Linked DNA regions of Homo sapiens: all the other regions are linked to region 2. Evidence: fine-mapped expression QTL. A gene starts in region 2. Each other region holds a variant in brackets. All regions are shown on one strand. Distances are from middle to middle. Region 1 has its middle 76 kb from the start of NRP1. Region 2 holds the start of NRP1 (neuropilin 1). Region 3 overlaps NRP1 (neuropilin 1). Region 4 has its middle 23 kb from the start of LINC02629. Region 5 has its middle 67 kb from the start of LINC02628. Region 6 has its middle 27 kb from the start of LINC02629.

The links. PIP is the estimated chance that this variant, and not a neighbour inherited with it, causes the effect.
Region 1: its variant is the best candidate, but not a certain one, in a credible set for the expression of NRP1 in whole blood (TOPMed, PIP 0.73).
Region 3: its variant is the best candidate, but not a certain one, in a credible set for the expression of NRP1 in lung (TOPMed, PIP 0.84).
Region 4: its variant is the best candidate, but not a certain one, in a credible set for the expression of NRP1 in nasal epithelium (TOPMed, PIP 0.70).
Region 5: its variant is the best candidate, but not a certain one, in a credible set for the expression of NRP1 in whole blood (INTERVAL, PIP 0.88).
Region 6: its variant is the best candidate, but not a certain one, in a credible set for the expression of NRP1 in monocytes (Fairfax 2014, PIP 0.86).

Annotation. Positions count from the first base shown.
Region 1 is chr10:33,407,933-33,413,008 of GRCh38, reverse strand. No RefSeq gene overlaps it. Among named protein-coding and RNA genes, the nearest start is that of NRP1, 76 kb to the right of the region's middle. The variant C/T (reference allele first, on the strand shown) is at 2,076.
Region 2 is chr10:33,332,426-33,337,501 of GRCh38, reverse strand. It overlaps NRP1 (neuropilin 1), which reads left to right and starts at 2,835. Exons shown (of 17, transcript NM_003873.7): 1 at 2,835-3,192. The coding sequence starts at 3,120.
Region 3 is chr10:33,229,275-33,234,350 of GRCh38, reverse strand. All of the region lies in intron 6 of NRP1 (neuropilin 1), which reads left to right. Among named protein-coding and RNA genes, the nearest start is that of NRP1, 100 kb to the left of the region's middle. The variant C/G (reference allele first, on the strand shown) is at 1,881.
Region 4 is chr10:33,924,966-33,930,041 of GRCh38, reverse strand. No RefSeq gene overlaps it. Among named protein-coding and RNA genes, the nearest start is that of LINC02629, 23 kb to the right of the region's middle. The variant T/C (reference allele first, on the strand shown) is at 2,454.
Region 5 is chr10:33,665,336-33,670,411 of GRCh38, reverse strand. No RefSeq gene overlaps it. Among named protein-coding and RNA genes, the nearest start is that of LINC02628, 67 kb to the right of the region's middle. The variant T/C (reference allele first, on the strand shown) is at 2,994.
Region 6 is chr10:33,874,182-33,879,257 of GRCh38, reverse strand. No RefSeq gene overlaps it. Among named protein-coding and RNA genes, the nearest start is that of LINC02629, 27 kb to the left of the region's middle. RefSeq lists an enhancer at 953-2,152. The variant G/A (reference allele first, on the strand shown) is at 2,569.

The sequences.
Region 1 (5,076 bases), 76 kb before region 2:
CCTCTGGTCAATGCAATTACTCAGTAACATGCTAACAGCTTTTCTCCTTGGCCTCCTTATCAGTATTACTGCCAAGTTAACCCTCCTCTTACCATCCAGAATATGTCAGAAACTTTTCCACTTCTAAAGCTTACTCTATACCCTCTCAGCTGTGGAATCTGAATCACAACTAAAATGTTCATGATTCATTGGCAGGGTTTTGACATAGAAAGTTCCCATGACGGATGCGCCAGTGTGGGCAGCCACTGACTTCTCCCTTGAACCTCGTCCTAATGATGAATCAGCTTTCAGCTGCCTTGTGATGGGCGCTCTTCCTTCTCGTTGATCCTTCACTGAGCTGCTCTTCCCTCCATCAGCCAGTTTCTCCCTCTGAAACCTTAGAGGAATTAACTGATTAATTCAACTCACACCAGAGACTTCAACTTCTGAAATCAAATGTTTTCCCATCCTTGTTAGTTCTCCTTTTTCCTTCAAGCAGTACTTACCCTCCTGGAGTCTCTGGTACATCTTTTTCCTGGCATTTACTGGCTTATCCTGATAATAGCAGCAACGCCCATTCTGTTGGTGTCTGCACTCTTTCATGACATTCTTTACAAGCCCCAACCTCTCTGTGACTCTCCTGCAACCTTCTCTTACTCAACCCACCATGACTGTCTGCACTTGTTGTAGGAGCTGTCCCTCTCTTTTCCTCTTCCTTGCAGAGAGTGGCCATCCAGGTTCAGCCCAAGCACCTCTCAGATGTGCAGAAACTTGTGCAGAAGTATAAAACCTCAATATCATATCTGGACTTTGGAGGGAATGATATTTCTCATCCATCCAGAACCATTCACTTCTAAAATAGGCAGAGAAACTAAAAAGTAGTAAATATGAGTGACAAAAATATTCAGGACAAAATAAAAATAAAATCCCGTAAATACTACTTTAGAATGGGGGAGCAGAGTAGCAGTGAGCTGAGAACCATCTTTCTTCAGGAGAATGGGCAGGCCAGTGCTCTAACCACCTTCCTGCCTTCACCCTCACAGATGCTGGAATCTTCTGGCCATGTACTAAGGAAATTCCCCTAGTTTCTTTCCTGACAAATTTTTGCATTGCCAGTTATTTTTTTTTTCTTTTTTCTTTTTTTTTTTTTTTTTTTTTTGAGGCGGAGTTTCTCCCTTATCGCCCAGGCTAGAGTGCAATGGCGCCATCTCCGCTCACTGAAACCTCTGCCTCCTGAGTTTAAGCAGTTCTCCTGCCTTAGCCTCCCAAGTAGCTGGGATTACAGGCACCCTCCACCACGTCCAGCTAATTTTTGTATTTTTAGTAGACACGGGGTTTCACCATGTTGGCCAGGCTGCTCTCGAACTCCTGACCTCAGATGATCTGCCTGCCTCCGCCTCCCAAGCATTGCCAGTTCTTTAAGTGAAGGTGAATATGAGTGTCTGCCTCCATCACTATTCACAATAACAAAGACATGGAATCAAACCAAATGCCCATCAATGATAGACCAGATAAAGAAAATGTAGTACATATACACCATGGAAACTATGCAGCCATAAAAAGAAATGAGATCATGTCCTTTGCAGAGACATGGAAGAAGCTGGAAGCCATTATCCTCAGCACACTAATGCAGGAACAGAAAACCAAACACCGCATGTTCTCACTTATAAATGGGAGCTGAGCAATGTGAACACATGAAGGGGAATAACACACACTGGGACCTGTCAGGGGAGGGTGGGGGGAGGGAGAGTATTAAGAGAAATAGCTAACGCGTGAGGGGCTTAATACCTAGGTGATGGGTTGACAGGTGCAGCAAACCACCATGGCACACATTTACCTATGTCACAAACCTGCACATCCTACACATGTACCCTGGAACTTTAAAAAAAAGAGTATCTACCTCCTCAGGGCATTAGAGGACACCCCAGAGACATGAGGAGAAGGCAGCATGGCAACCAAGAGACTGGCTCTCTGCCTCTCCTCCCACCAACAGCTGCCTGTGTTCCATCTCAGAACAGTCATCTCATGGATGTTACCCAAAACTCAGTAAATCAAAAACTAAGTATGTCAAATGAACCCGAAAGCCAGCTTGCTTT[C/T]GAGCCATCATTCCCTTCTCTGCTCACGGTACCACCGTTCTCCAGTTGGGATTACTCTCTCTTCCTTATCCTTGATATTCAGTTATTCAGTTCACGTCTGTTGTTTTGATTCCCCTTCCCCTTTGATCACTTCATCTCTTGCCACCCTAGATCAAGGTCTTATTAACCGACTCTTAAATCACCACGCCGATCTTGCCAGTGCGAATCTCTGTACCTAGCGTTTCCTCACTCCTGCCTTTATTGCTTAGGTCATCAGATTAACCCTCCCTAAATTCTGCTCTTACACATCCTGTCTTGCTCAAGGACACATCACAGCTCCATTTTATTCATTCTGCCAAAAGCAAACTACTTCTTTTTTTTTTTTTTAGAGTCAGGATTTCACTCCATCACCCAGATTGGAGTACAGTGGTGCAATCATGGCTCACTGAAGCCTCCAACTCCTTGGCTTAAATGATCCTCTCGCATCAGCCTCCTGAGTAGCTGGGACTACAGGTGTGCAACACCAAGCTTGGATAATTTAAAAGAATTTTTGGTAGAGACAGGGTGTCACTGTGTTGCACAGGCTGGTCTTGAACTCCTGAGCTCAAGCAAAATTCTGGCCTTGGCCTCCCCAAGTGCTGGGATTACAGGGATGAGTCACCACGCCTGGCTGCAGATGAATCTTCCTGAATGCCAAGGTGTATAGTTTTATTTCCATCAGTCTTTGCGTTTTCTCTTTCAAGGCTACTTTCTCAGAGGTATACAAGTGTGTGATTGTTCTGATTCCTTTGCTCTTTTAAGTATTATGCAACGTTCTTTTTTTGTTTCTATTAATGCTTCTGCTTAAATTCTAATTTGTCTGATAATATTACCAAACGAAGTTTCTTTTGGTGAATATATTCATGGTTTATCTTTTTACTTCTCTTCATCCTTAATCTTTCTGTGTAGCTTTAGGTGGTCTCTTAAGCAACATATACCTAGATTTGTATTCTATTATCAAATCTATCCAATCTAATAATCTCTCTTTCTCTCTCAATAGATAAGTTGAATTAGCTACATTTATTAAGATCAACCACATATTTGGACTAATTTTTACCATCCTTTTTGACTTTTTTTACACCTTTGCCTTTTCTTCTGATGAAATATTTCCACATTTCTGTTTGTATGTTTTTCTTTCTCTGTGGCTTTGATAATTGTAGGTTGTGCTTGTAGTCTTTTAGTGACAACGCTGAATTTTTTTTAAAAAAAATACATATTTTATCTTTCAATACTTATATCCTCCTCTTGACCATGACAAACGTGTCAGTCAGTATGGTTTAAAAACCCACTGAAGAATGACCCCTTCTTCTTATTTTACAGTTCTTGTTTAAATTCTGTTTTGTACTTTTTAAAGTCACTTTATGGTAAAAAAAAAAAAAAAAAAAAAAAAAATTACTATCCTTTAATCAAATTCCATTTTATAATTGCTTTTATCTTATTCATTGCATTTATTCTTCCCCAGAGTGCATTATTTGTTTTACTACGGTTCTTAGTTTTTATGTGTTTTTAAATGTCTTTATTTTGATTTTACTCTTGAATTATACTTTGGCTGGTTTTAAAAAAATCACATTACTATCCTTCAGCTTTTTGGTTAGCAGCCATTCTGTTCTGGATAATCTATCTTTTCTGTGTTCTGGGATTTTGAATGTACTCTTTATCTTTGATATCTGCAGGTTTACTATGAAGTGAATAGATATGGATTTGTTTTTATCTCTTTTTATAGGCACACAGAATCCACATTCCATCTAGGTACAGTATTGATGTCACTCCTTTTTCCTGCCCATTCCTCCTCTCTCTTCTCCTAGAGCTCTCATTAGATATATGTTGGTGCTCTTTAACTATCTCCCATGTCTCTTAACTGCTCTTTTGCATATAGATAGATAGATAGATAGATAGATAGATAGATAGATGATAGATAGATAGATAGATGATAGATAGATAGATAGATAGATAGATAGATAGATAGATAGATAGACAGAGAGAGAAAGACAGGTTCTTGCTCTGTTGTCCCAGCTAGAGTGCAGCGGTGTAATCATAGCTCACTGCACCCTTGAACACTTGGGCTCAAGTGACCCTTCTATGTCAGCCTCCTGAGTAGGTAGAACTAAGGCACACCACCATGCCCAGCTAATTTTTATATTTTCTGTCTCACTATGTTGCCCAGGCTTGTCTCTAGTTCCCAGCCTCAAGCAGTCCTCCTGCCTCAGCCTCCCAAGTTGCAGACATGAACCACCACATATATTTTTAATCTCTCTCTCATCTCCTGTCTCTATCTTCATCTTTCTATCTCTCACTGCTTGCCGAGCATTTTCTTAGTGATAGCTTCACATTCTCTGATATGCTCTCCCACAGGATTGAGTCTAGAGTTTATCCTGTATTTTGAATATTTCATTTTTATTTCAATTACTATATTTCTCAATTTCAAAATTTTGCACTTGTTTTTTTTCTCATATCTATCCACTCTAGTTTTGTTTCTACCTTCTTTTGCTTCATTGTTGCTGTTCACAGCTGTATTCTTTCATTTATCTCTTTTCAGCATCCTCAGTGTAGGTCTCTGTCCGGACTTCATTCATGTGATGTCTTGTCCTGATGGTTTATTTTGTTGGCTGCCTCTCTTAGCAGTAGGTTTCTCCATGTGTTTTGGAATTTTGTTTTGCTGGTTCTTCTTGTTTGATGGATTTTTTTCTCTCTTTTCTGTCCTTTTGCTTTTGTGAGTCTTTTAAGGATCAGCCTAACTCCCTCCTTCTGTTCTCTCAATGCTCCAGCCCACACTTGCTCAATCTTCCTCTCCTCGATATCCTCACCCTTCCTGGTGCAATAATTTTCCAGCTGCCTCTTCGGGGCACCTGGGTTCCAAGTTTGGAAACAGACCTTCTCATGGTCATTTGGAGCTCTGGTACTTTGGGGAAAGGGGGCTATCACAGATGGAGTGATGACACTGGTGGATGGATGGTCAGTTCCTACTCTTCACACTGTGCTTCTA
Region 2 (5,076 bases):
AAGGACAATTTGCTCTGTACCAACCCACTGGCCGGCAATTCTCAATCAGTGCGGTAGGGCTCCATTACCCAGCACTGTGAGTGGAAACTAAGGAGTCTAGAAAAACCTTAGATCAGCTAAGAGCAGAGAAATCAGAGGCAGAACTTAAATATGACATTTCCTTCTGAGTCCATAGTGCATCCCTTATTCACTGGTTGGAGAAAGCTGGCAAAAGCGCTCAGCTGGAGGCAGGCGTTTTCTGTGCGTTGAGGCGCCGGAGGAGCCATTCCCTTCGGGAAAGACAAGGTCGGGGTGGGGGCAGTCGCTCCGGAGTGCACGATCCGGTGGCTTTATTTGCTGGCCTGGCGGGTCTAGGCTGGAAAATGCACACTCAGCAGGGAAAGGGGAAGAGAGATTGGCGGCAGTTTTCTAAAAACAACACAGCTCAAGTCTCCCTCGTGTGCCCCCTCGCTCACCCCGCCGAGGCTCAGAGCTATCCAAACGGGCGCTCCGGAGCGAGCGCGGAGGTCGGGTCCCCCCAGGACGCAGGCGGGCCTCCGAGACTCCAGGCCGCCCCGGCCGCCGCTCCCTCCCGGTTCCCCTTCCCTGTCAACCTGCCAGGTCCTGAGAGGCGCCTCTCCCTCCGAGCCTGGACCGAGGTCGCTCCGGGTCACCCTAAATCTGATGATGCCGCTCGCCCGGCGCAGCCGGGGGCTGGGACTGGCGGGGCTGCACCTGGGGAGGCGGCGACCGCGCGCGGGTAGTAGCCGAGAGCCCAGGCTGCCTCTGCGGCGCTCACTCCCCCGGGGTCTGCGCTGGGCGCGGTCGGCGCCCCCGCCTCGCCTCCCGCCTGCCCGCCTGCCCGGGCGCAGGGCTGCCCATGGCTTCGACAGTGCTCCTTCCGCTCAACTTAGGCATTTAACTCCCAGCCCTTCGGTGCCCACTTCCCACCCCGCGCCTCCCAGGGGTCCGACAGCTGAGAAGAAGGAGGAAACTGGCAGAGGAAAGAGGCGCTCGGGGGGGCCGAGTTTCCAACTTGGCGACTGGGAATCCCGAGGCGCGTGGGGAGGAGAAGACAGGCTTGACCCGGGGCAAGAGAGTGGCGAGTGCGGGCTCCGTGGGTGCACCTCCCACTGGCCCGGGAACGGCCTGCACCCCGAGGGGCGCACGTCACTGCTCCCAGCCCGAGTCGCGAGCGCGCAGTCCTGGCCTGGGGCCCGCGCGCCTTGGGCTTTCTCCCTGCCCGCCCCTTTTTCTTCCGCCAAAACCTTTGACCAGAGTCTCCTTGCCAGCATTCCTACCTCCCTTTGGCCAGCTATTTGTGCCAGGTAGGAATCAGGCTGTACTTTGGCTGTGTGTGTAGACGCCAATCCCCAGGAGGCGTGTGACCTTTTCACCTTACCCACAAACTCCCTGGGAGGTGCCCCGTGGGCACTGACCCTTCTCCGGGGCCTGATCGGTGACCGCAACCTGTTTCTTCCCAGAAATGTCCTTGCTTTTCGCATCTACAAACGCTTCCTGCAGCACTTCTCGGAAAACCCTCGGGGACGGGCCTGGGGGGCATCCAGCGGGCTGGGGGCACGAGCCGCTGTGGGAAGTGGGGGTGGCAGGAGCTCCAGGGCCGGCGTGCACGTTGTCTGTGGCCGGGAGCGGACACTGAGAGGGCGCAGCGAAGAGCACCCCTCCCCCGCCACTCTTTCCCTCCCTCGGGATGCACAGAGAAACGGGGGCCGCCCGACCCCTGATTTCCACACCCCTCCCTAGCACCTGGGCTCCCAGACAAGGTTGGGCGGGGTCGGGCGGCGATTGCCCCCCTGCTTGGAAGGCGCAGCACCTCCCACCCTCCGGTGTTCCCTCTGCCCCAGAGGAACGGGCACCAAATCTCGGGAAACAATGAAGCCTCCGCGGCGCGCAGAGGGCACCCAGCCGCGCGCCCTGATGCGGGCCAGGGAGGCCGCGTGGGGCTGCAGCCCGGCCTCGCCCGCCCAGGCGGTCTGTCTTCGCTTCACACCACAGCGACACTGCTGCCCCTCGCCCGGCTTCGCGGTGCGGCTCCCACTCCAGCCCGGCTTTCCCCTCCTCGCCCTCCAGCTCTGGGCAGGGGCGTCCAGGGGTGCCCCGCTGCTCCCCGCCACAGGTCTCAGGATGGCGCGATGAGGAGTGGCAGGGGGTGACCCTGCGTTCCTCGCCGCCGAGGGCGCGGGCCCCGGGATTTGAAGTTGCGAGAAGCAGCCGCCACCTCCCGGGCGCTCCGCACTGCGCGGCGGCGGGATCTGCGCCTGCAGGAGCTGCCCAGCTCTCCCTCTAGGGGTGCAGAGCGAGCACGCGAGGTGGGCTGGCCAGACCCTGCGGCTGGCACTGACCTCCGCGCCCCTTCCTCCGACGCCCGCACCCACGCGACCGGGGCGCAGACTCCCAGCGCCTTCCTTCCCGCGGAGATCCCTGCAGGGTCTCTGGGAAAGACAGACAGACGGACGGGGAGAGCACTCGGAGGGAAAGTTGTTCCTCCCAGTCTCCTGTCAGGCAATTACAGGCGAGCCCAAGCGGGGAGAGGGGCGGGAGGAAGCGAGGGAAGGGCTCCGGAGTGGGGGGAGGCCGCAGGAGGGGAGGCGGGGGTGCAGTTGGTGAAACTCCTCTGTCTCCCGCTCATCTTTTCATTGCTCGTTCCCCTCCTTCCCGCAGACACCCGGACCTCCCCTGGGCGCCAGCTCCGCGGCTCCAACGGGTCCAGAAACAAGCCGGATTTTTTTTTTTTCTTCCTGGAAATTGGCTTTGGTGTGTGTTGCCCTACCTCCCTCCTCCCCCTCCCACCCACAGCCCCCCCCCGGCCTTTTTTTTTTTTTTTTTTTTTTTTGAGACATGGCCCGGGCAGTGGCTCCTGGAAGAGGAACAAGTGTGGGAAAAGGGAGAGGAAGCCGGAGCTAAATGACAGGATGCAGGCGACTTGAGACACAAAAAGAGAAGCGTTCCTCTCGGATCCAGGCATTGCCTCGCTGCTTTCTTTTCTCCAAGACGGGCTGAGGATTGTACAGCTCTAGGCGGAGTTGGGGCTCTTCGGATCGCTTAGATTCTCCTCTTTGCTGCATTTCCCCCCACGTCCTCGTTCTCCCGCGTCTGCCTGCGGACCCGGAGAAGGGAGAATGGAGAGGGGGCTGCCGCTCCTCTGCGCCGTGCTCGCCCTCGTCCTCGCCCCGGCCGGCGCTTTTCGCAACGGTAAGTGACAGGCAGAGGCGCGGGTGACAGCGGCGCCCCGGCTCCCAGCTGCCCGCCCCGGACCGGGGCTCAGGCGGGGCTTCCCGGGATCAGCCGGGAACAACCGACTCCCGGGCGAAGGAAACTTTTATCTGGGAGGAGAGAAGAAGAAATGAGATCAGGCGGTTTAGAGCAGGAGGATTTCAGGTCTTTGGGCTCCCTCCTGACGTTGATCCTTGGGCTGTGGGGCTTTTCCTTACCTCTGTTACAAGACAGAGCTGTCTACCTTCCCAGATCAGCATGCCAATTATCTTAATAATGTTTCCTCCCAAAGGCAATTAGAAGAGACTCCCTTTCAAAAATCTGATGGCTGTTGAAAGTTAATGAACACTTTACCAGGAGATCTTACTTCCTGGTTCCTTTGCTGCTCCCCTAAGCCGTTTCCTCTGGTGGGTGACGGCCAGAGATATCGGTTTGTGGGTTGATGAAACTCCCTCCCCCGCCTTTGTACACCTTCCGTAATCTGTCTGGAGTATGACTGAAAGTTACATAGTATCAATACAGGAATCTGACATATACAGTGTAAGGCACCAGGATATCTGAAAATCCCTAAGCTAGTTGCAGCTTCCACTTAGCTTTTAAAATCACTCACTGTTAAGTAAATGAAAAACTATACTGGGGTCTAAACAGTACCATGTAACCTAAATAATGTGTTTTAAAATGGGATCTGGTTGTAGGCATGTTTGACTTCACACTGTAAAGTAAGTGCAGGCAAGGGTATGCAATTATCTTTACAGTAAGTCGTCAGCAATTGTTATTAACTAATGATCAAATATTTACTTTTGTCTGGCTTAGATTTCAATCACAGTAATTAGAAGAAAAGAACATCCACTACTTACTGTGGTATATTGTTTTAATAAGAGACCGCAAGTGGAGGGCCTCATACCAACAGGAATTTAAATCACATCTTTATGATGGAAGTTAATCTCTCTAATATGCTTTTTCAAGGTTTTGTGATTTTAGCAATGGATTTCCCTCAGCAGCTACCAAGCAGTATTTTAAGAGATGCTTAAAGCAAAACACATGCAAAAAAAAAAATTATGAACATGGAATTCAGCTTATTAATGAGCCCAAGTTGATGGCATTTTTCTATAATCTGGCAGGAAAGCAAGACACAAAAAATTATGAATGTAGAATTCAATTTATTAATGAACCTGAGCTGGTAGCATCTTTCTATACTCTGGCAGGGAATGAAATAGCATTCTCGTCCAACTGAAAGAGCTCAAATGGTTGGACTAGAAATTATAGTAACCCTGTCCTCCACAACTCTTGAGACTAAATCCATAGTGGGGGTGTTCACAAGATAGATTTGAAGCTCAATGCAAAGAGCTATCAGACTTTAGGTTGTGAACTACACAAATATATATGCAGTACACACACACACACACACACTTCTTAGTTTTCTTAGCAGAAATCTGGGGAATGCTGAAAATCTGGCTTTAGTTGTTGAGCTTTACCAGCAAAAGCCATGTCGCTATGCTTGAAGTGACCAGAGCCAGAAAATGCCTCTGTAACTCAGCAGACCTCTCAAAGCCATGTCCACCTCCTCTGAGTAACCAGTGTCTGCTAAATTAATTCATTAACCTTATTTAGGACTAATGGTCCAGAGTCATTAGAAACTGCTCTTTCTTAATCAACTGCTAGAGAGATTGAACAGAGCCAGGGAGTCTAGCAGTCCACATTATCTTATTACACTGTCACTTTCTCAGAAGTCACAGATTAAAGAGCTCTGGTGTGGTACCAAGTCCACCTAAATGTCTTCTGAAGTGACTCTGTCGAGTGACTAGAACCAGTGCTGTTTTATTTCACTCCTGTAACAGATGCCAGACACTACCATGATGTTTG
Region 3 (5,076 bases), 100 kb after region 2:
TCATACACGGGCCACCAGTCTTCTCTGGGGTATAAGTCCTGGGTCAAACACTGGTAAGTTATGTGACTCTGAGAAAGGTACATATCACTTTGTTCCTCTGTTTCTTTGTCCATAAAATGTCCCTTGTATGATTGTTGTGAGAATTGAAAGAGACACTGTACATAAATTTAACCCTTCATAAAATGCCTAACACGTAGAGGTTGCACTATGAATTTCCGGTTATTAATGGTAATTTTAGCCTTAGCCATCAGCATTTTTTCTAGGTAATACCACCATAGGGACACAACACAGAAAGAGATAGGGAGCTATGTCACTAACTCTAAAGCGACTGCATTCAGATTCATAACAGTAAGAAGTCCAGGATCCTAAGTTAATGAGCACAATGGTCAGGTACTGTGAGTTAAGCCCACAGAGCCTAGAATAGCATTGATGTTCACAGGCCCAGGCTCTGTAAAAAACATGTGTTTTATCTAAGGAAATGAGACAATTGCTTAAAAATATTTTCTTTAGCTTGTAGTGTCAAGTGATGAATTAAACAGCTCTTTGAGTCATCAGAGATGCCCCAAAGAAAATCCGACAGTCTCCCCCTCAAAAAATATTTTCCTGTTTTTAATCAGACCTCAGCTCTTTGTCCTCTATTTTTTCAGGCCATTGTATTGACCTGCCTTGGGAGTGTTAAAAGCTGGTAAACGCTCCCTTGCCAATGCTAGCTCAATGGGCAGTAATTTATTGAGTAAGACAGATTTTCATTTTAGAAATGAGGCTTTCCACGTTATGACATTACCAATATTGGTTGGTTATGTATTATTATAGAAAGCAGTGATATTCATTTCATGGCTGGAAGGCTGCGTGCTGGTGTTTAACCAGCAGTTTGCAAAGATTTGCTACATGATTTACTACACATGCTGCTTTGTCCTCAAGTGATTCCTGGTAAAATGTGTGCTTCTCCTTGCTTCTCTTTGTCTGGGGAATGTGTTTCCTGTCATTACTAAGACAATACCATGGCCATATGGTGCATGTGGATGGTTCCTGTAGATATCTTACAACAAAGAGTAAGTTGGGAGCATGGTAGAACCCAGTGCCGTGGGGAGGTGGGAGTTCGCCACCCAGGAACTGCAAACATCGCCCCTTCACCCCTAGAAGTGGTGAGGAAAACTGTTTTCCTCTACTCACACAATTTTCCCCACCCAGAAGGAAAGGCTTGGGGTTTCCTCTTCTGTATCTGCTAACAAGATCTTCTCATTGTGAGTGGAGCACAGTGTGAAAGTAAGTTGTGGGTAGACTTTCCACCACCAGTGTTAGAATTTCATATCCATATTGGAAACAGGGTATTGTGTTGGGTCACATTTCTAATCATTATAGTGCCAACGGCGCTATGTATTATAACTTAGAAAGTGGTCACCAGCTGGGCACGGTGGCTCATGCCTGTAATCCCAGCATTTTGGGAGGCCAAGGCGGGCAGATCACTTGAGGTCAGGAGTTCAAGACCAGCCTGGCCAACATGGTGAAACCCCATCTCTACTAAAAAAAAAATACAAAAATTAGCTGGGCGTGAGAGCGGGGGCCTACAATCCCAACTACTCTGAAGGCTGAGGCAGGAGAATTGCTTGAACCTGGGAGGTGGAGGTTGCAGTTAGCTGAGATCTCGCCATTGCACTCTAGCCAGGGGACAGACTGAGACTCTGTCTCAAAAAAAAAAAAAAAAAAAAAAAGGAAAAGAAAAAGAAAGCGGCCACTAGAACTCAAAAGGAGTTTGATAAAGTTCTGTAAAATAGCCTACATGCCATCGATAAATACCAGATGTTTATGTTTGTCACACACACAGAGGGAAATGTTCAACAATTTCAGTGAATGCATTTGATGTTCCATTCCATCCCTGC[C/G]CACCGCCATCATCACACCCCCTCACCATCACCCTTAATGTTAAACAGAAGTATATCCAACTCAGATGTGAAATCACATCCATCTTCTAATTAAAAATAAAGCAGCTGTGAAATAATGATATTCTTTCAAAATAAGAAAATGGTGATTAGAGCAGAGCTGATTGGGTTGAGGGAAAGCAGGTTACTTAATTATGGTTATTGTGTGTCTGAATTTTTATGGAAAGAAAGGAAGTATTGTTTAGGACGATGAACCCTCCAAAACATAGAGGGGTGGCATTGTGTAGAAGTACTCTGGGTTGTGTCTTTGTCTTTTCAGCTGCTTGTCTTGGGTCACCAGTCTTGCCTATTAGCATGTGACGTTGATGAGAACTTAGCATGATTCAAAAAGCTAAGCCACCAAGACGATGGGTAGTGTTTGATTTGGAGTGGGTTTTATGACTACTGATCATTTCAACTTCAAAACAACCAGAGCTCATATTCTTTAGAGAGCAATACATTTTTTTTGACAAGTAATGTCAATAGTGGTGAGGGAAACATAATAGGTTGTTTAGTGTCCATGATTTCATTCATTTATTTTTTCCTGCTTATCTCTGCAATTCCTGCTCCTCCTCGTCCCTGGAACAGTCTTTTCCTTTGTGTCCACTCACAAGCTCCTACTGTTTATCCCCCATAGCCATCTTGAGCATAGAAATCAGCTCCCCTCACCTCCAGTTCTCTGTTAAATTGTTTACCTTTTCCTTGATGCTGCATGATACCTGTCTGTACGGTAGTCATGGGTTCGCGTTTTGCACACTCTTACTGCTCTTTATATCCTAACAACTTAATATAGAACTTAGCAGATAAGCAGTATTAAATGCCCGCTGATAATGTTAATCCAGTTGAGTAAGATCCAATACCTAAATATTCACAGCCACTAAAAATTATGATGTAGAAAAAATAGTGGCACTAGAACGTCTATAAAACTCCATTATAAAGCCAGTTATCAGGCATAGAGGTAATATGACCTTATTTTTCAAAGTAAAAACATGCATACAAATATTCACAGGTACTTTGCATGGGAAAAGAAACTCTGCAAGGCTATGATTGGTAATTATTTCCTAATGATGGTCTTAGGGAGACTTAATTTTCTTCTATCATCTTTACTGCATTTTATGAATTTTCAGTAGGCATTTATTAGTTTTTCTGCAGGGAAAAACAGATGCTTTTCAAAGGAAATCCACACAACAATCTAGAAGGAGGTACAGCAAAAACAGAATGATGAATTCAGTGATGGGGACATGAGCTATAAAGGGGTTTAGCCTACTAGGCCAAAAAGAGGAAAAAGTCATTTCCAGTCAAAAAACAGACAGAGGTTGTTTTAGGGCAAAGGAACTTTGTATGTCAAGACATGCAGCTAGAAAAGGCTTATATTCTGTTACAAGCAACGAATATTATAATATGGCTGGGTGATACAGTTGGAAAGAGAGAGGTGTAGCAGGAGGCTAAAAAGGTAGATTGAAGCCAATGTCATGACTAGCAGAGACATCTACACCAGTGAGAAAGGCTTGTAAGGGAAGGAGAAAACTTTTCATCTACTCTTTAAGGTGTTGCAACTGGGGCCTGCAAATTAAACTGACAAAAGACAGATTAACAGGAAAAAAGGCATTAATATTTTAAATTTTACATGCACAGAAGCCTTACAGAAAAGAAATGAAAAACCAAAGAAATAGATTCAGATGCTTATACACCATTTTCACAATGGGTGATAAGTTGTGGATAAGTGACTTGAGAAAAGAAAGAGGGTTTGGGCTTCTAGGGCGGATAAGTTGTAGGAAAGTGACTAGGAGATACATACACACACACACACACACACACACACACACACACACACACATATATGAGAAACTAATGGAAAATAGGAGTTATTTTAGTAAGATGTGTTTATGCAAATTTTATCTCAGTCTCCACTGATAAATGTTGCTGTCTTCATCGTGGTAGAGTAGAGGGGGAGAATTTATGCCCCCTTCCCAAAAGGAAATGTATCTCCTGCTTTTAGGCAGAGAAGGGGAGGGCATAGAATTCTTCTTGCATCTGTTGATTCTCGATTGCCTTCAACTCGAAATAATCTTCATGCCAAAGTGGCAAATTTTGGGGGTGGTGTCTTCCAGAACTCTTCAGATATGAACACCAAGGCATGAAGTCTTTCTAGGTCTCCTGACACAGACACCAGCAGTGTGAGCAGTGATGCTTATTGAGCAGGACTTTATCTGTCTCCCCTCAAACTCTCTCAGGCACTTGAGAGTGGAGGGCAGATCCTTGTTGAGAATTCCCCTAAGGCATTAAGAGAAAGGACTCGTGGAAAGAACTTCCCTGGTCTTAGCAGTGAGGGTTGCACACTAAGTGCTGGAGAGGCTGTATGTTGTTAGAGTTCTGGGTACTATCCGGTTTTAGTTGCAGTGGTTCAAGCCCCAGTCCTAATCACTTTGTGAGGTTGTCATCCATCCTTACTAAACCCACTGGCAATAATCTTAGGGAGAAAAATGAAATGAAATTTCAAGTATCCCTGTGTGGTAAATAAGAGAATCTGCAGAGTTTTAAAGCACAGCAGGAAACTATGCAATTACAAGAGGAGGTTGCCAATGCATTTCATTGCTGTTGAGAAAAAAAAAATCTTTCTTTTTTAATGAGTGATTCATGCATATGCTTTGGGTGCCTTTGTATCTTCCTGTGTTGGATACTAGTTAATTCCAGTCAATTGCTCCTTCCTCTGATGTCAGCTGTTCCTAATACCTAGGAATCTTCTGTTTGATCACCAGTTAACTTCTTTCCTACTTAGTAATTAAATCTTACTCCAAAAACCAAAATTTAAAAAATAGAAAAAGGACAACCAGGGAATGAAGTTCTAGGGTTGTTTCAAATCAGCCCAAGCTGAATACACACTCTTGGGAATTTAATCATTTCCAAACTAAAGAGCCATCTGTAAGTTTGACAGGAAGAGTTTATTTAAATAGCTCTGCTTCATGCTTCCTCGGACTTCAAGATTTTAAGGACCCTTCAGCTTGAAAGTAGCTGTGGCATTGGGCATGACTTTAATGGACAGTCAGAAAAGCACTAAGTGATCTGCGAGCATTTGAAAACAGTTAACATTGTTCAGAGCAACCATTTTTAGAGTCCCCATTAACTTTTAGATTGCGGCATTGTGAAATCAGAGAGTTTC
Region 4 (5,076 bases), 590 kb before region 2:
TATGGCCTGTGAATCAAATATGATTTTTTTTTTTAAATTAGTGGTTGAAAAAAAGAATAATATTTCATGATGTGTGAGAATTATATAAAATTCAAATTTCTGTTGTCTGTAAGTAAAGTTTTGTTGGCATACATCACATTCCTTTATTTTAATGTCTATGCCTGCATTTTTGCTACAACAGCAGAGTTGAACAGGTGAGGCAGAAACCACGTGGCCCACAAAGGCTAAAGTTTTTACTATCTGGTCTTTACAGATAAAATTTACTTCTGCTTTAGATGATTGAGAAAGGGATGAACTACATATCGTTCAGCCTTGTTTTTCTCAACTGACCTTCGCTTGCTACTGAGAGGCAATGAGTTAAAAGCCACAGTCCCAGAGCAGTGTTTAGAATATGCATGTGCTATTTTTCCTCTCTTGAGGTAGACACATATTTTTAGAGTCAACTGAGCTGTGTGCGAGACACCCCTCCTCTTCTGAAAAATTGCAAAACTTAATGGGAGCATGCTATATATTTATGATATAAAACCACAGCCATGAACACACAGATATATGGGAAAAGAAACAGACTGTTGAAGCAGCAGGATCCTCAGTTACTGAGTTTTCATCTGATCATTTGCTATTTGTTCTTCTATTTTGTCATCTGCCAGTGGTATTCTAACAGACACGTGGGAGCAAACACCGAGGTTGTAAGAAAAATATATGTTGGAAAACCAGCTTGACGGTCATTAACTCAATATTCTTCCCAGGACTTGTTTGTGTCTGATATCCTTGGATTTTATTTGCAGGATATTTTGACACGGCTTATAGAGCACTATTGTTTTACGGGAACAGTTTGAGAATGACAAGTTTAAAACAGAAGTGGACTCTAACTCCTTTATTGCAAGACAGGGTTCTGAAATTTTACAGGGACAGGAGAATCTACTCAATTACTAACCAACAACTTTATAATCTTATCACGATAATGAATTTTACACAATCTAGTTGCCTGCCGATGTCTGTTCCTAACAGTATAAAATGTAAACAGCACTAGCAAGCCTGTTTTGGGTTCATTAAAGTAAGCATGTACCAGTCACCTGAGCAATATGGACTGGTGTGATAATAAAATTCTTAGGAAGCTCTCTTTTTAATACAGTAGATTAGAAAACTTGGGTAGGGTATTTTCTCCCTAATAATGCTTCAAAGGTATAGAGAAAGCTGTCCTGGATTCAACTGTCAATCTATGCTTAGAAATGTCACCAATAATTTGTAGCCTGGAAGTGCCTGACTTATGGACCCCTGGTGCTAATTGGATCCACTGATTTCTGTAAAATCCCCACCTGTCATCAGCTCAGTAATAGGTATGGTACTGAAACTCTAATGAACCCAGGACTAACTTTAAATAGCCACTGATTTTTTAAAATGTTGTTACCAGGCCACAAGTTTGGATTTTTAGGGAGGGAACTTTATTCTTTTATAGCCTCTATATAATCTTATAATCTTTGATTAGGATCTAAGCTGTTTAAGAAGGAGGTCAAGTTTTATCCTGGAGGACACCCTATTCTTGTAGAAAAGGTTGTTGGAATTTCAAAACTCCATCAGGTAGAGCTTGCTTAGAAACTGCAGAGAAAATGAATCTTGAATTCTTGTTAGCTAGGAACTGACTTGCTTCACAGCAGCAATAGAAAAATTCATTTCAGGAATGAGGAATCCGTTTTCAGGAGTCCAATGAAATGGATTGATCTGAGTGGGTGACCTGAAACTGCATTGCTGCCTGCATAGTTTAACTTTGGTCGCTATTTTCTTTGGTGCTGCAGTTTTGGAGCAGAAAACTTGCAAATCTGTTTTACATTACAGTGGGAGGTCTTCTCCTCTAAAAGAAGTGACTCTCCTGGGTGACAGGGTAGTGTCCTCTGGGAGAAACAGGAATACATTTGGAGGGGCTCCAGTAAGCATCATTGTTCTTTGATTCCTACCAGTGTCCTACCTCTTCTTAGCAGGACACTCCCAGGAGCTGTTTGCCATGGAGGGGACCAGGCTGCTCCAACTGCAGTCTGTCACCCCCTCCAGCTGGACTGGAGAGGCCTATGGAAGCAGCTGGGGTCTTGGTTGGAATATTCTCCTCATGCTAACTAGGTCAGAACCATTTCTGTTACATTCTTCTGTTTAGCTTGATGGATGGAATATAAAATGCTCCCCTTCCCAACACGTACCACTTTACCCACCTGAAAATCCCATGAGGACCTCCATGTTATGAAATGTGCTTACTGAGAAGTGGCTTTTGCTTTTATGGCGATGAAAACCTTGGGTGTCCACGAGGAAAACACACTGTATCCCACTATACCGTTTGCCAAAACTAGCAATTTATGATGCTATTCCCCTAAACCAATGTCCAACTAATATCAACTTGAGTAATTTCACCGATGTGATTCCTGTTCTTGGAGCCCTTGGGCCATAGCTGCTGTGGCTTCCACCCA[T/C]GCACCAAAATAGATTAGCAAGGAAGGACGTGTTAAGTCATGCGGCCCAGCCCAGTCATCTGACCCTGGGGAGTGTTCCCTCTGGAATGGCTTTCTGATGCCCCAACTCGTCGGATTGGAATAATGCCAGCACAGGACTGTGGCTTCTTCCCGTGGGAGTTGGTAATATAGTCTCTTCCTGGTTTCAGCATTTTTTAACCCCCATTTCTTGATTTATTCAATCCTTCCTGGGAATGGCCAAGCCAGCCGTCTGCTTATGGAACCCTTACTTCTCCTTTCCATATTTTCCAAGATTATCCATTAGCTAGATGTGGGGCATCTTATATCTATCTGAAGTCATCCTTTTGGTAAACTCTGCTTAGGATTCCTTTGTGAAGTGGGTTGTCCTTCATCTTCCTTATTTTGTTGCTACATATTCATAAATTCTCTTTACTTTTTCTCTACCTCTTCATTCTTTTTAATTTTTAGTTTATTATGAGTACACAGTAGGTGCATATATTTATGGGGTACATGAGATATTTTGATACAGGCACACAATGTGTAATAATCACATCAGGGTAAACGGGCTATCCATCACCTCAAGCGTTTATCATTTATCTGTGTTACAAATATTCCAGTTATACTCTTTTACTTGTTTTAAAGTGTACAATAAACTATTGTTGGCTGCAGTCACCCTGTTGTGTTATAAAATGCTGGATATTATTCATTCTCTTAACTATATTTTAGTACCCATTAACCATCTCCACTCCCCCCGTACCCCTTACCTTTCTCAGACTCTGGTAACCATCATTCTACTCTCTACCTCCATGAGTTCAATTGTTTCAATGTTTAGGTTTTGTGAATGAGTGAGAACATGGAAGTTAGTGCTTCTGTGCATTTAGCCTTTTCATTTTTCATGCTATGGGTATGTCAACATGAGAGAGAAAGGGAAATGGGAAGAAAGAGGAGGTGCAGACTCTGGGGGTCCCTCACCAGGGCACTAGCAGCAAATGTTTGGTCTCAGGGCTGACTTGGAGTCAGAGGATGCCAAAATGGAAAAGCGACTGCCTGGAGATGTTGGTTTTCCAAGACCTGAGATAGGAACTATGAAACCAAAAAGCAGGCACTGGAAATCCTGCTACCTGCCATTTTTTTGGATCCCACTGCTGGCCTGAATTTTTAGCTTGAACCAGTTTCCTTTCAGACAACTCATCTTTTTTCTCTATTCTCACCATGGCTACATTTCTCTCCTATAACCACAGACCATCAGATTAAGGCTGGAGGGTACCCCAGAGACCATCTCCTGCTACCTTCTAAAATTAGATGGGAAAAATCTGGTCCCGAGGGGTGATGACTTCTTCAAGGTCACACAGCAAGCTGGTGGAGAAGCTGAGACTAGACACCCATCTACTGAATTCCAGGCCAAAGCTGTCTTCTCTAATGGATAGCTGGTTCAATCTGTGGAATTCAGCAAAAGGTAACTTCTGCTGAAGCAGCTGCCTCCAAGTGTGCTCCAAGAGTAATGGTGTGCATCAATTTGTCAGAGAAAAATGGCAACGGATAGAATTCACAGCACTGAGAGAAGAAATGTCAGATAAACCTTCAATTAGCCTTACTCTTCTGTAGGAAAACTGAAATTAACATAGCACATAACACCAAATTATGATTTGACTTGGAAGCTACAGTCATCTACATCTTCTGGGTTTTCTCCCTTCATAAATTCAGGTGTTTTTCTTTTTTTTTTTTTAAATAATAGAGTGTAAAATTTTGAGACAGGTTTTCTAGGCATTATTTAATCATTCAAAGTTTTTTAAAATCTATAATCCCTGAACCAGGCAATAAATAATTGGTAATTATAATTTGGAATTTGCAATAAAGTATTTTAAGCAGATCCTATGGCAGGCAGCAATGGGTATGACTAGTAATAAGGTGATAGCCTCTGGTTGTAAATTCCTGTGCCTCTGTTACTGTTTACAATCTGTCCTTCGGCTGTCCTGTGGTATATTGCTAACTCATTATTTTTTTCATTGACATGTGCACGTGAGAATACAGTGTTAAAAAAATTTGGTGTTCCGGGCTGGGTGCAGTGTTTCATGCCTGTAATCCCAGCACCCTGGGATGCCAAGGCCGGCGGATCACCTGAGGTCGGGAATTCAAGGCCAGCCTGGGCAACATGGTGAAACCCCATCTCTACTAAAAAATACAAAAATTAGCTGGGTGTGGTGGTGGTACCTGTAATCCCCGCTACTCAGGAGGCTGAGGCAGGAGAATTGCTTGAACCCAGGAGGTGGAGGCTGCACTGAGCTGAGATTGCACCACTGTACTCCAGCCTGGGTGACAGAGCAAGACTCCATCTAAAAAAATTTAGTGTTCCGTACATGGAGACTCCTCTCAACCATAAATGAGCTTTTCTCATGATTAATGATGTAATTTACCAATTATTAACCCTAAACTGCTATCCAGTAATGTCAGTGAGTCCAAATAAAGGTGGGTAAAGGTACTTATCTTCTATTTTGGTCCTTAGCACTTGATGCTAATAACTGAATCTATTTCTCATGTCGTAAAATGTAAAAAAAAAGAATGGAAAGTAACTAAAATGTCCCCAAAGATCTATATGGCTTTATATTCTAGCTTTACTTGCTGC
Region 5 (5,076 bases), 330 kb before region 2:
CAGAGGTTGCAGTGAGCCGAGATCAAGCCATTGACCCAACCTAGGTGACAAGAGTGACACTTTGTCTCAAAAAAAAAAAAAAAAAAAAGAAAAAAGAAAGCACCAATGGAAGCAACAGCCCAGGAGAACAAAAGCAGCCTGGCCCCTGGATCCTCTCAGTGGGGGGACTTACAATTTAGTAACAAAGCAGGGTGAGGCCTTAGCACTAAATACCACTGATCATCACCCAAGCCCTGGGCGATCCCAGGCTGATAAAGCCTGAGAAACCAGGAGTTAGATATGTCTAAATCCAAACATAAATATAAACGTGATTAGACTTAAACTACGCATTATGGCAGATCTCACCACCTGTTATTCTTGATCCCCTCTGAATCATGCAAGCCCAGAGGGGCAGGGAGAAACAAAACTCCCTTGTCCCTAAGCAGAACTCTGCTTTTCACCGTCCGCTTGAACTTTAAAGTGGGCTTAATAGTTTATGACTTAATCCACCTATAGCTCTGAGTACTGATGAACAGCTGAGCTGATATTTGATTCCCAACGGGAAGGTGCTGGAGATGAGAATGTCAAGTGCAAATCAACTGGTTGGGTGTAAAATCTGCTTATACTAACATATGGAGTTTTATCTCTAAAATTATTTTTCTCTTTGGCATTGTGAGCCAAAGCACTATGAATGCTGAAATGATCTGAAATGGTGATGCCTCTGAGCCTCAGCAGGAACACTCAAGCACAAGCTTTCCACATCTTACCCATGCTCTCTGGCCCTTCCTGTGGGCAGTGTCTGAATCTCAAACTTTGAATCGATCCTATTGCTGATTATGTCAAGATGTCCAGTCATTTAACAATTGTCCCATGGACTTAGGAATGAAATTCAACATGGAAGTCAGTAACTTTTAGTTTTCCAAAGTTGCTGGATTTTTAACCTTCCTCAGCACCCCGACTGAAAAGAAACTTAAAAATGGTGACAACCAGAAGGAAAACAAGTGCACTCATTTTACCTCCGAGACTCACTGAAGAGTTGTTAAGGTCAATAGATATATTTTTATTTTTTAGAGATAGGGTGTTGCTCTGTCACCCAGGCTGGAGTGCAGTGGTGCAATCATGGCTCACTGCAACCTTGAGCTCCTGGGCTCAAGTGATCCTCCCACTTCAGCCTCTTCAGTAGCTGAGACTACAGGCACAGGTCACCATACCTGGCTAATTAAAAAAAAAAAATTAATAGAGGTAGGGTCTTGCTATGTTGTCCAGGCTGTTCTTGAACTCCTGGCCTCAAGCAATCCTCCTGCCTTGGCCTCCCAAAGTTTTTGGGAGGAATTTCAGGCATAAGCTACCATGCCCAGCCAATAGATATATTTTGGATGGAACATCATTTTTAGCCAAAATAATCTGTGAATGTTTTGTAGTAGACTTCTCTTCTTTATCCTTCTCCATCTTTTCCCTAAAGATTGTTGGCCTTAATTTTTTGGTTTTATCATTTTGTTCATGATAAGGTGGAAATTTTGCACTAGAAATTATCATATGTTCAGTTAAAAGCATCTCTTCATCTGATTCTGGAAAAGTCTTAACATAATTGTGAAGAAAATATCTTGGCTCAAAGACATTTCTGCAAGACTCCTCAGAAATTCTGCAAGCTAGTGATTAAGGCAGCTTCATTACAAATATCAAAGTAGACATGGGTCACTGAATCAGATGTGGCAAGAAACACATCACCATGGTGAGTTCAATATGGTAAATGCTTAGGGGATTCACGTGGCACTGCACGTGTGTCCACATCTAACCAGAAACCAGATTTTGCCCTGTGTGATGCTATACAGAAATCTTTAAAGCCAGTGTCTTCAGCCAAAATGCTTTTATTGTCAAAGGAACACATGGAAAAACCAGATGAAAGAACAAGACTCAAGGCCTGGCCCCCATCCTGTGAGGTGCTGGAGGGTTTGCTAACCTGAGAGAAAAATCATTCAATTGGGGCATAAAATAGTGTGTTTATCTGTCAGTGTGGCCATGTTTTTATTGAGGAAATAAATAATCCAGAGAAATGTGTATTGTTTATCGTCCTGTCTGACGGAGAGGTTGCTTCTAAGTCACACCTTTTCCTTATTGTCAAGCACTCAGCCTCAACAGGCTTCCCCAAGAAGGTGGCCCAGTTCTGAAGCCCAGGCTCTTAACTCATTCATTCATTCATTCATTGGTCATTGATTGATAACCAGTGATGTGCCAAGACATTCATTAAAATCTGATTGTATAATCAGAAGACAAAACACAGTTCTTCCTCATGATCTAGTGGAAGATGTAGACACAGAAACAGAGAATTATCTGTTTGGATTATATGAAATTTGTCAGAAATGGTCAACATAGGCAATTTTATATGGTGCACATTTTATAATACAATTTGTTAAGCTCATTGATAGAGATATGGATGAAAATTTTTGTCTTCATTGTTGTTTGTTAGTTTCCATTTATTGTATGAACAGGAGGCTTAAGCTGGGGAGCGTGGACTGGGGAGCAGGGAGGAAGCTGACTGTGAAGGCTTGCTGGAGGACACCTGATCATAAAAGATGAAGGAGATGTGAAGCTGGGTGTGTGGCATGTGTCTGTAATTCCAGTTACTCTGGAGTCTGAGGCTGGAGAGTCGCTTGAGCCCAGGAGTTCAAGTCCAGCCTGGGCAACATAGCAAGTTGACTTCCCTTCTTTATCCTTCTCAAAAAAAAAAAAAAAAAACGATGAAGATGTGGACTGCAAGTGTGGAGATGTTAAAGCCAGTGTCGATGAAGCATGAAGAATCTTCTGGAATAGACTGCCTTTAGAAACTTATCTGGAAGAAGCCCTTGATTGTTTAATCAGTGAACTTGCTCAGAAAGAGAACATGAGAACAGAAGTGCCAATGTCGAAGGTGCTGATATAGATACCTGCAAGTATCTAATCAACCCCTTGATTCCTTTGCTCTTACTGGCAAAGACAGAAGTATCCCACACCCTCTCTTTTCCAACTTCCCATCT[T/C]AGTCCCTGGAGGTGATTCACTGACCTGTAGCTCCCATAAGAGACGGAAAGACCTTAAATGCCTCACTGACTGTCATCTTGTGCGAAGACCGCTACTGCTTCCTGAGAGTGGGGTCATCCAGTGGTTTGAACTCTTGCTTTGGGAATAGTTCTTATGCTAATAGCTGGATTTGAAGCCCTGCTCTTTTGATTCAAGGTTGATAACTTTAGGCCCATGAGGACTAATCTTGGCTGGGTTTACTGTTGTCCTCACCCTTGCAAAGTCTTTATGTTTCATTTCCTGACTTTCAAAACCTCCACACCTAAAGCAGCTGGCTCCTCCCACACATTAAGCAGGCCCCATCCTCTGGTTCTGCTTTCTTTACTGAGTGAGCACTCTCAAGTCTTGGAAAAAAGCCATTTTGAAGATCTAACACAAGAGCACAGGGGACCAAAGTATATTGAGTTAGACTCCAATAAACCCTTGCAGCAATTCAAAGTTCTCTTCAAGTTCATTGAAAGTGTGTTATCACATCACTGTCTGGGAATCAGGATCACGGTTCAGGTTGCCAATGGTTTCACTTTCCACACTGTGGGTTACCACTATTATAGGAGACAAGAGCAAGCTTTCAGCCTAAGAATTCATTAGCACTGGAAAGCTCGTGGTTCCTGAAGATATAAGTTTGTCTCTATGCACATATTTCTGGGCATGCATTGCCACTGAATGATGAGAAAGGATGTAGGACAGTTAAGGGGAATTGCATCCTTCAGAAATCCTCTCGAAGGCCCCCTGCATTACAAAGAGATTGGACATTATTGGACTTAATATCTCCTAACATTACATCCAGGCCTATAGTCCTGTGACTTGAAAATGACCTGAAAAAGCGTTTTTATTTTTTCCTCCTCAAATGTGAAATAGGGTCTTTTGTTACCAGACATCACTAAGGTCATGTGATAAATGGGTGCTATTACTATATGTTCCATGAAGCGTGTGCTGCTTTTCTGGGGACATTTTAACTCATGTACTATCCCAAGCTTTTAATCATTCTAGGAAAGTCCTTCAACCCATCAACCACTGCAACAGACTGTCTTTGTAGAAGGTGGCCCAGGGCTTTGGACAATGATGTGCTTTGAGACAGAGCTGGAGATGTTATTTAGGGCCACCCTACTTGTGTTTTTTTCTGCTGCCCAGGAATAATCACTCTGGGTTGGGGAGGGAGGAACACATTTTAATGCCTCATTCTTACTTGTTTAGTAAAGTCAACCAGGAACTTGTTTTCTGTGATCACAAGATGCATCCCAAATTACTCTAAAACCGATATTGATTTTTCTACAAATAATAAGGCCAGTTGTAGAAGAACCATAAAACTTGAAGTTGTTGCTTCACTGAGTGTTACCATGTAATGTCAGTAGCTTTGGTTTTTATTTAATTTTGTGATTAAAATTTTTATTGATTTCCCTGCAGGGTAGAATATATCAATACCTTTGGTTTCAAAGGAGCATTCAGTAACAAGGAAACATAAAAGAACTCAACTACGGGAAACTGGTGCTTTATTTTAAAATTTAAGAAACTGCCACCTTGCATCCCTAAGGTGTATCTCTGGAACTAGTTTTGGATGGGACCACTTAAGCTTGTGGTGGTGTTAATCTCTCAGGGAAGCAGCTGGCTCATGGGCCTATGAAGTTGAGTTGAGAAATGCTTAGCTAGTCATTATTAGAAATAATATTGTTCTGCCAGATGTTAATACATCACCAGGTGACTCACAGCCCATGTTACCATAGATCACATGTGCTTCTTTCTCTTCACCAGAAAAGGGCTACTCTTACAATGTCAGTTTTTGGAAGCCCTGCACTGTGGGTGATTTTTGTGTATAGGAGAGATTATTGTTTTCAAAGGTATTCAGAAACACAGTCCATATTGAGACTGAATCTCTGACTCAGGATGGACCCCCCACCCACCCCCAAATGATTCTAGAGTGTTTACAAAACTATACAGAAAATAGGTTTCTGGTAAAATTAGAAAAGGCCACGTACTCCCACAAAGTCACCCAGTGTTGTTTTGTTTTGTTTTGTGTTTTTGAGATGGAGTTTCACTCTTGTTGCC
Region 6 (5,076 bases), 540 kb before region 2:
TATGGATTATTGATTTCCATAAAACCACTATTTCAATTTCTACCAGCCCTCGTCAAATTCAACAGACTTTAGTAACTTCTACAGACATGACTATTGTGTATTTCAGCCATATTCCAAGTTTGAAACAAGCTCTTCCTTGGCCTCTTCGAATCCCATGTGCAACTAACTTTGCTGCAGAAATTTCTTGACACATTTAAATTTGGGCTTCAAAGAAAATTTTTTTAAAAAGGGAAGATTTGGTGCGAGAAAACCATGCATTTAATAGTCCACTTTTATGGGTGGAATAGGGCTAAGTTCTCTTTAAAAAAAAAAAGGGGTAAGCACTTGGGCACTTCAAACCTCATCAACCACATTTGATCCTAGATATTATCTAGGCTTATCTTGAATGGGAAAATGCTAAGAGCTCAAGTGCTGTAAGACTCAGAGAGCATTTTCACTCATCAGGAGGCTGATTAAGCTTATTATTTGCTGTCCAAAAAGCTTCAGGTGCTTATTGACCTGAACTAAACTTGAAAACAGTAAAGGGAGAAAAGGAATGTGCTCCTAATTGAAAGCCCCAAGAAAACCGGGTCACCAAAGCTGAGGTGGACACGTCTCCTTAGTACAAATCGGGAAGCTGTGTTTTTCGGCCAAGATTCTACAGCTTGGGAAGGATCATTTCCCATCTTCCCGTGAGACCAGCGATACCCAACACATTTACAGAAGCTCCGTCATGTTTTCACACCTGGTCCCGTGTCCATATTTCCTTGCATCCAAACAAGAAGTGAGTTTTCGACATATCTTTTCACTCAAATATTTGAACTCTCCAGAGAACCATTCAGCAGTCTAGTTCTAGAGTTGCTGAGTTTCGAAGCTCAGGTTTCTTCAGTACCCATGGAGGATCCTTAAACATGCCAAGAAAAACAGCACAGCAGCTGCATCTTTGGGAGTGAGGTGCAAGCTTCCAAATATTATTTTAAAATCACCACTTATGGAAAGATAGAGAACTGTATGCCATCTTAGTATTTTTCAGTAGGGCTAGTTGGTTAAATACCATCCTCACCCCGTCACTTTTTTGCTCTATTGGCCATGGTTTTCCCTAATTTAATAAACCTCTCACATTTTCTTTTCCATAAACTACTTTAATTTTCCTACAGAAGTGACTGTAGGAAAATTAAATCCTGTATTTACCAAAAGAATCTTGACGAAATGATTACTTAAAAGTCACTTCTATGATAAGATACTCTGTTATTTTTCTTACTTTATTTAAAGCTGGAGAATGATGGTGGGTATTATAATTCACTCAGTGTTGTGATTGGACAGAGAGGCTGCTTTAGTTTAACAAAGGTCTCAGACCACTCTCATGGGGAATGTTGATAATACAGAAAGTTATGCATATGGAGTTGGGGAGTATGTGGGAAATCTTTATAGCTCTGTACAATTTTGCTGTGAACCTAAAGCTGCTAAAAAATTCTTTATAAAAAATGTAAAATTAATTTAAAAAAATAGGACATGTCCTGAATGGTCTGAGGCTGGTGTAAATTATCATTGTTCAGTCTTGCTAATATCTATTCCTGGGAAAGTAAAAGTGGGAAAAATAATGGATGGTGGAGGGATATTTAAAGAATAGGTATACCTTCATTTATTCTATGAAGTATCTGATAAATCAAAATGTATTTTCTTTATTTTATTCCAAAGGGCAAGTTTTCTTATCTCTTCCATGAATTCAGCATCATTCAACCCATGAGAAGGTAGGAGATGACATGTGGAATTTGAGCAGCCAAGATAAACAATCGTCTATTAAACCAAAACATTGTATGCCACTGGCACGACTCCTCAACTTGCTGGGAGGTTTGCTAAGGGATGGTGGGAATGGAGAGTTAAATCCACCAAGGATTTCTCACTTGAGATTTTCCCAATGTTTCTTTTCTATCCACCAATTACAATGCAGGAGTTTTCAGCCCAGGACAGCATCTTCACCTAAATTATTCCCTTATTTAATAGTACTCACAGGCCGCGTGATTCGCTGTGTACTCTTCCTAGCTTGGTCTTGCAGTTTTGGCTCTTGGTAGGAAGGAAGTTGCCAAACAATTGCCCTGTTGCATGTATCACTTCCAAACTCTTCACTCTTGCTGTTGTGGGGTTGTGTCTTTGTATTTTTTCCACATTTGTTCTCTGCTCTTTCTCAATAGAGCTGGAATCTCCTTTGTAAAACCAGAGGTTTCCATTGCATGGCAGTCTTTTTTAGGGCATTTATATCTCCATAGAATATACTTACAAAAATTAACTGGAGAATCCCAAAGTCAAGGGAAACTTCCGGAAGAGCAGAGATTTCAGTTGCAACCAGAATCTCAATTATCTCTGCACGATGATTACACAGTACTCAGAAAGGCGAGAAGAGACAGGAACGGAAACTCAAGCTTGCTTCACAAATTTGAGTCCTTGTATCTAAAGGCCCGAGGGAAGATGGCCAATAATTCACATTCTAGGCAAACAAAGCCTCTTGCCTCATTCCATTGCACAACTCCAAGTTAAGAAGGGGAGAAAGGTCATCTTTACTTCTCTCCATGTGCACCATCCAGAGCAGAT[G/A]TGAGGTCTCTGCTGATCGCCAGTCAGCCTTGCTGCCAACTTTTCTACAACCCCAGGTCAAAGAACACAATGGAGCCTCACCCCTCTCTTTATGATATACTAATTTTCCCTTCACTACCTGCTTGTGGAATTGTTGGAAACATCCTGGGATGCAATCGTTTGGTCTTATTTCCCTTGTTATTTCACCCCCACACAAAATCCTTTTCTCTGAGGAGCTCAGGACCCCATGCCACAATTAAAGGACTTAATCTGACGCTCAATTATGCCTTGCTGGGTCAGTGATCTGTGAGCCGAATTAATGAGACCTGCTGATGACCCGACAAGGAGAAAGCCAACCAGGGGCAATTGGAAACAGAGAGAAGTGAAGGAAATGCGGGAATTCTAAGATGGGTTTGTGAGAGACTGACTCGCAGGGAACCAAGGGTCTCTGGGAGGTCAAGGTCAGTCAGGAGGCCTATTAAAAAGTTACAGGGGGAGAGAAACCCAGAAAGTTTCAGCAAAGCCACTATCAGGGTGTCACTGAGAGGGAGGAGAAAGGATTTTCTACTGCTGAACTATTCAGAGCCGGGCTGAGATATACAGAACATACCCAGGCTCCGACTCTTCACCAATGCTTCCTTGTTTGAATTTTCTTTTTTCTTTTTTCTTTTTTTTTGATATGGAGTCTCACTGTGTCTCCAAGGCTGGAATGCTGTGGCACGATCTCAGCTCACTGCAACCTCTGCCTCCTGGGTTCAAGTGATTCTCCTGCCTCAGCCTCCAGAGTAGCTGAGACTACAGGTGCGTGCCACCAGGCCCGGCTAATTTTTTGTATTTTTAGTAGAGACAGGATTTTGCCATGTTGGCCAGGCTGGTCTCAAACTCCTGACCTCAGGTAATCTGCCCGTCTCGGACTCCCAAAGTGCTGGGATTACAGGCTTGAGCCACCGCGCCTGGCCCCTTGTTTGAACTTTTTAGATTCATAGTGAACAGACAAGCTCAATGATGATTATGATAGTCATATCAGCTGATACTGTTATTGTGTGTTAATAACAACAATAGTAAAATATTTAACATTATTATGACGGCATATAGTAAAATACTTAACATTATTTAATTAACATAATTAAAATATTTAGCAATATGAACATTATTATTATATTAAATAGTAAAATATTTAACATAATTAAACACTGTGGTGCACTGAACATAGACCATCGGCCTTGCACCATACCAATTGCTTCAAAGCTGATGGTAAATGATTTCAAAAAGTTGAAGATCAAAGGATAAGAGAGGACACACGGTAAACGAGAAGTTTCAGAAGATGCAAGACAGGGGGGACTAGACATTGGAAATCTATGTGCCTTCAGGAAGAAATGACGATGAAAAGGCCTTTTAGTATTTCACAGACTCTGGACCCAGGGTAGGCTCAAGAACTGGCCAAAAAGCTATCTCTAAAGGCTGGAAATTCCATTTATGGATTGGTTAGAACCCCTCTTCCCCTTCCTCCCACTCAGTACTATTTTATTTTTTAAATTATGTACAAATATTGATTTGATAGAAACAGACTGTCTAGCACTATACTATGCATTAGGCATTCTTTTAATAACTTTACATAAATTATTGCTTTTAATTCTCACATAATTATTGTATGAGGTATGTGCCTTATTTTCCTCACTGAAGAAATGCTGATTGTTTGAGATGATGGATATGCTAATTACCCTGATCTGATCACTATGCATATATGCATCAAAATATCACTATGTATCTCATAAAGATGTATGATTTTTATGTGTGAATTAAAAAAATAAAGTATAAAAAAGAATGGAGAAGAAGAAAAAAGTTATAAGGCAGATAACTTATAAAACCTCAGACACTGACAAGTTAAAAAACTTGCTCAAGATTACATATCTAATAGGTATCATTAAAGCTAGGGATACAAAGCTAGGAAGTTGACTCCAGAGACTATGTTGTTAATAAATACAGTTTGCTACTTCACATGTCATGTTTATGCAATGGTTAGATGGCTTGAAATTATATGCTTTAGTATATCAGTATTTCATAAAAGCATTTTTCTCATAGATGCAATAAAAGTATTTAATAACAAAAGTTAAAGAACTTAGGAACAGAACTGATGGGAATATAGTTTGTTGTTGTTGTTGTTGTTTGTTCATTTTGTTTGTTTTGAGAGACAGAGTCTCGCACTTGTTGCCCAGACTGGAATGCAATGGCCAGATCTTGGCTCACTGCAACCTCCGCCTCCCGGGTTCAAGCGATTCTCCTGCCTCAGCCTCCCAGCAGCTGGCATTACGGATGCCTGCCATCACGCCCAGCTAATTTTTGTATTTTTAGTAGAGACAGAGTTTTTCTATGTTGGCCAGGCTGGTCTCAAACTCCTGACCTCAGGAGATCTGCCCGCCTCAGCCTCCCAAAGTGCTAGGATTACAGGCATGAGCCACTGTGCCCAGCCGGGAATACAGTTTCAAAGGGGCTAGATATAAGTCAAGTCAAAAATATAGATCACTGCAA